2 separate regions of the Homo sapiens genome follow, and region 1 is linked to region 2. The links come from fine-mapping of genetic effects on gene expression. A gene starts in region 2. The other region holds a variant in brackets. All regions are shown on one strand. Distances are from middle to middle. Region 1 overlaps JAM3 (junctional adhesion molecule 3). Region 2 holds the start of JAM3 (junctional adhesion molecule 3).

Evidence for each region.
Region 1: its variant is fine-mapped to the expression of JAM3 in skeletal muscle (GTEx, PIP 0.99).

What each region holds. Positions count from the first base shown.
Region 1 is chr11:134,146,330-134,149,169 of GRCh38, forward strand. It overlaps JAM3 (junctional adhesion molecule 3), which reads left to right. Exons shown (of 9, transcript NM_032801.5): 7 at 2,218-2,347; 8 at 2,435-2,489; 9 at 2,817-2,840. Among named protein-coding and RNA genes, the nearest start is that of SNORD153, 3.6 kb to the right of the region's middle. The variant A/G (reference allele first, on the strand shown) is at 1,197.
Region 2 is chr11:134,067,900-134,070,809 of GRCh38, forward strand. It overlaps JAM3 (junctional adhesion molecule 3), which reads left to right and starts at 1,173. Exons shown (of 9, transcript NM_032801.5): 1 at 1,173-1,260. The coding sequence starts at 1,185. RefSeq lists a silencer at 978-1,167.

The sequences.
Region 1 (2,840 bases), 78 kb after region 2:
AATTGATAGAATTATCAAAATGTAAGGTGGTGTCAGGTCTCCAGAAATTTATCCAGTTATAACCCTCTTGTAGAAAACTGACAGTTTTAGCCCGAGTAATTTTACCTGCAGACAAAGCTTAGCCCCTAGAGTAATGTTATCTCAGGGCTCTGGTTCCCCTAATGGAGGGGCGTTGAGAGGAGGGTGGGGGCAGAGAGGATGTGTCCAAATCACTTGGGGAGCTTTTTTTTTTCTTAAAAAACAAAAAACAAAAAACACCACAGGGTCTTGCTTTGTTGCCCAGGCTGGAGTGCAGTGAGTGCAGTCACAGGTCACTGCATCCTCAAACCCAGCCTTCAAGCCATTCTCCCACCTCAGTCTCCTGAGTAGCTGGAACAACAGGCACACACCACCATGCTCAGCTAATTTTATTTTTTGTAGATACGGGGTCTCACTGTGTTGCCCAGGCTGGTCTCAAACTCCTGGCCTCAAGCAATCCTCCTGCCTCGGCCTCCCCCAGGTGCTGGGATTAACAGGCATGAGCCACTGTGCCCAGCCAGGAGCATTTTTTGAATCCTTCCCTCCTCCCTATTTGGAGCTCTCCTCAGAGCAGCATTTTCCAAAACTGCCTGGTGATACCCATTTGGGACCACTGTTTCACATACAGATTCGAGCCCACCTCAGACATATGCTAGAAATGTCTGTGTGTGAGACAAGCGTTCCGAAGGATTCTTCTCATGTGTCACGTTTGAGAAACTCTGCTCTAGGGTTGTTTTCTCCTGCAGTTTTGCCCCAGACCTACTTTAGCCTATTGACTTTTTAGTGATGAAACTTGGGAATTGACATTTTAACATCAAAATTGCATGCCAGGCGTGGTGGCTCACACTATAATCCTAGCACTCTGGGAGGCTGAGGCGGGTGGATCACCTGAGGTCAGGAGTTCAAGACCAGCCTGGCCAACATGCCAAAACTCTGTGTCTACTAAAAATACAAAAATTAGCCTGGTGTGGTGGCAGGCGCCTGTAGTCCCAGTAACTTGGGAGGCTGAGGCAGAAGGATCCCTTGAACCCGGGAGGCGGAGCTTGCAGTGAGCCGAGATTGCACCACAGAACTCCAGCCTGGGTGACGGTGACGGAGCAAGACTCTGTCTCAAAAAAAAAAAAAAAAAAACGATTGCAAGTTTACTTTTTGTTTTTGAGATGGAGTCTCGCTCTGTC[A/G]CCCAGGCTGGAGTGCAGTGGCACAATCTCGGCTCACTGCAAGCTCCGCCTCCCGGGTTCACACCTTTCTCCTGCCTCAGCCTCCTGAGTAGCTGGGACTACAGGCACCTGCCAACACGCTCAGCCAATTTTTTGTGTTTCTAGTAGAGACGGGGTTTCACCACCTTAGCCAGGATGGTCTCGAATCTCTGACCTCGTGATCTGCCCACCTCGGCCTCCCAAAGTGCTGGGATTACAGGCGTGAGCCACCGCGCCCGGCCTGCAAGTTGATTTTTAAGTGTACATTCATCTTTGAGAACCAATACACTAGGATAAAGGAGATTTTTTTAAAACTTCCAAGTTACTTGGCTCTTGTTGATAAATTCCCTGCATAGTTTTCCATGTGTCGCTTGCTTGAAGGAACGGCTGCCAGAGCCCCATATGAAAGTGACCCAGTGCCTTTGCCCAGTGTATAGACATGAGAAAAGGGTTCCAGGGGGTTTCCTCTCAGAGGGCTTATAGATCGGAGGTCAGGCAGCCGGCAGAGACAAAGCTCTAGTTCTTACCTAGGATTCTTTACTTGTTTGTTTTTTGAGACAGATTCTTTAAGGCTTGAAGCTACCTTTCTTCCCCGCAGCAATCTGCAACAAAGGGAGGCCCTGGAAATTAGGGATTCTTTTCTTCTTGGGATCCTGGCTCCTAATCTTGTCCTCATAACCATTTCCTCCATAAGTAATCTCAGGCATTCAGCCAGAGGATTTTTAAGCCTACAGTGCCAAGCCCACTTTAATACACTTTTCAGTGCGACTGCATTTCAACTGTAGAAGTCTCAGTACTTTTCACGTGTGAAGTTAGGAGTTATGGTGTCCTATATGTTCTAGGCTAGAAGGATTGTAAGTGTTCTCTCTTCTAGCTGGGGTAGGCCTGAGGGGGCAGGGGGCAAGTGGGTTTGGGGTGAAGGAAGGAGGCACAGCAGGGCCAGGGCCTTTTTAAATAACAGATAGTGTGTATCATGGCTTCCACCAAACCTCCTTTTCTTCAGATGACCTGAACATTGGCGGAATTATTGGGGGGGTTCTGGTTGTCCTTGCTGTACTGGCCCTGATCACGTTGGGCATCTGCTGTGCATACAGACGTGGCTACTTCATCAACAATAAACAGGATGGAGAAAGGTGAGCCTGCCTTATGTGAAAAAAGGGAAGTTCAAGCTGGCAATAATATAACAACCCTGTTGCTAAACTGCTCTCTTCTCCTCATAGTTACAAGAACCCAGGGAAACCAGATGGAGTTAACTACATCCGCACTGACGAGGAGGTAATCATTTAGTAAACCTGGAAACCTAGGTGTACCCAGCAGGGAAAACAACATTCCCCCTTGGAAACCACACGGGTCTCCTGGGAAGATTTCTGAGTGATTGTGCAGCTCCTGAGCTCCTCAGCCCCTTCACAGTAACACACACACACACACACACACACACACACACACACACACTAATGGGATTTGTGCTTTGCAAGCGCTAGTGATGGTACTTTTTAAGAATGATTATTCCATCTGTATTTAGCCCATGTTAGACTTACTCCGTGTTTTTCCCTGCTTGCCACCAGGCCCCTTGATGGCTCTAACTGTGTGTTGGCTTTGCAGGGCGACTTCAGACACAAGTCATCG
Region 2 (2,910 bases):
AAAGAAGATTTATGAAAGGAAAGACAGAATCATAGTAGGTAATTGAGTTATTTTTTAATTTTTATTCTGTCTTTATAAGATTTTTGAGAAGGTAATCAATTAACATAAAGATCTGAGCAGTTATAAAGATTTACAAAGAAGATTATACAGTGATGGAAACTGAAGCATATTCTTGGCAACAATCTCAATCTATTTCACGTTTCCCGGCTTTTACATATATAAATTTGGTATACATAATATGTAAATATACTTCTATTTTGCATGAAAACTAAAAATACTAAAAAAGTAGCATGAGTATATGAAAAAGTTAAACATTAAAAATATTAGTTGGAAACTGGCTTATTTTACTAACAATTATATTCAGAATTCTGTTGCTAGACTGCTGTTTCTGGGAACATTGGAGGTGTACTTTCTATACTTGCTAAAATACAAGCTTTTCAAGTATTTTCCATAGTATTAAGTGAGACTTTAAATACTCTTGCTTTTTTAGATCTAATTTCTGCTTTAATTTATCCTTCTCTTCATTTTTCCTGTTTGTCCTCATCTTACCTGTTCTTCCCTGGTTTTACTATCTCCCAGTATTCAGAAATCAGAGCAAATAATTAGTCTGCTTTTCTGCAGAATAAACTATTGGGTATGCCATCATGCTTTTGATCTACCACATAAACAAATTATTTTAGCAAGACATCACTTTTATATGCTGTATAATGTATGTATTGCTTATGTTTTAAGCAGATTTCAGCTCTTTTCCTTCCATCAATTTGGAATTGGGGGCCCAAAAGATGTGAAGGCGATAATGCTTCCAAGATAACTGGGCTGCATCCTTATTTGTAAAATAAGAAATACTTTATTTCCCAAATTTTAAAGGAGTGTTCCTTCTCCGACCTGTTGTGATGGATTTATTCTATAGCTATGGAAATATACCCTGCTTCACTCTTGTACATACTTCTTTACTCTCCTCCCGCCAAGTTCATTGAAAGAGAACCCATGTGCCGGTCCAGAGCATCGCTGCATCCGTAAGCAGCTAGACCTCAGCTTCCTCTGTCACCATGGTGCCGGCTCGGCTGGGCCCGGCGGTCGCCATGGTAACTGGGGCGGGTCGCAGGGTCCTGGCAGGCTGGGCGCATGCGCGCGGGGACTACAAGCCGCGCCGCGCTGCCGCTGGCCCCTCAGCAACCCTCGACATGGCGCTGAGGCGGCCACCGCGACTCCGGCTCTGCGCTCGGCTGCCTGACTTCTTCCTGCTGCTGCTTTTCAGGGGTGAGTTTGCGCGTTTCCGCTGTTGGGAGACTAGGGTCTGGGGGCGACGGAAGCAGAGCGGGCCGAAGCTGCTGGAGCCGGTCCGGGCGAGGATAGCGGTCCTGGCTCCGAGGGCTCCCGGGGTCCCGGGCCGGAGGGGCGGCGCGCGCCCGCGTCCCCGCAGCCAGGGCTGGGACTCGGGCCTGGCTAGGGCGGGGGCCCTGGGACGCCCGGCAGTTGGACCGGGGCGGGGAGCTAATTTGGGATGGGGGGCCCGTCCCAGGCAGTGAGTCGGTCCCGGACAGCCGTCGGACCCCGGGGGCGGGCTCTTCTCGGGCGGGGTCCTGTGCTGGGCGGTGGGCTCATCCCCCGGGTGGGCTCCTCCCAGGCGGGGTCCTGTGCTGGGCGGTGGGCTCATCCCCCGGGTGGGCTCCTCCCAGGCGGGGTCCTGTGCTGGGCGGTGGGCTCGTCCCCGGGGTGGACCCCTCCCGGGCGGTGGGCACGGCCCTCTGGAGGGAGCGCGGCAGCTGCGGCGTGGGCGCTGGAACTTGCTGGAAGACCCTGCGCAGCAGTGCTGTGCTCTCCAGAAGGGACGGTGAGCGGGGGACGTAGCTGAGGACCGGCGAGGCAGAGCTCCGAGGCCTGGCGGGCTGCTTGGTCACAGCCCTCTGGGGATCTGCAGTTCATTTGACTCGACACAAAGGAACTGCTTTTCTTTTACAGAAATAAAATGGATATCAATCCAGTACCTTTTTTGTCTCTGGCCTGGCCGAGGAGACCACGCAGACTCTTATCCGGAAATAGCATTCGGGGCATTTGATCAAGACACACTAATAAACTTGATAGTTTTGTGCATTTTCTTTCCCTCTGTTTGGAATTCTCATTAGATCCACATTTTCCTGGACAGTTGTACAGAGGACTAAAATAGCTTTCCTTTAGTGAGCTTGTACTGTCTACTAGGCACTTTGGAGCCATTATCTCGTTTACTCCTTTCAGCAGCTCTGTGAGATAGGTTTCATTAATCCATTTTCAGAGTCAAGTCTAGTCTGCTTTCCAAGGCTGCATTCTAAGTAGTGAAGCCTCAACTTCATATTTACCTAAAGCAGGACACCACACTCTTCCCCTGGCAGCCATCCGCAGGTAACCAGACCAGGACCTTTTTCGGTTCTTAGATTATTTTATTGTTTGAATTGCCACTGTCATCCCATGATGTTTTCCAGAATATACAAATTAAAACACGGAGGGACTGTTTAGGAGTGAAGGTGGACAGATTTTGGAAAACAAAGCATTCCTGTGTTTGGTGCTTTATGCTAATGGGATGCTCGTGATGGGCTGTGACAAAAGATGAGTTTTAGCGTATAGATTATGTACGCTAAGGCAAAGTCTGTATACTTTGCCTGAAAGTGATTCCCAAAACCAAATGCTGTTGGGAGATAAGTGATCAAAGGCTAGCCAGGGGACAAGGGTGTCAGGAATGTCCAGCACCCGCTGTGTTGGTCACACTGACACTGTCCTATTCACAGCCTGGAACAACTCTCTATTGTTGAAAAGATCTGTTCACGTGAAAGTTTGCAGTTTTTGTTGCAGAAGCATTTGGCAGTTTAGCTCAGGAATGAATTTCAACTTGGTAGTTTGTTAATAAAACTAGAAAATGCAAAGAGCTTCACTTAC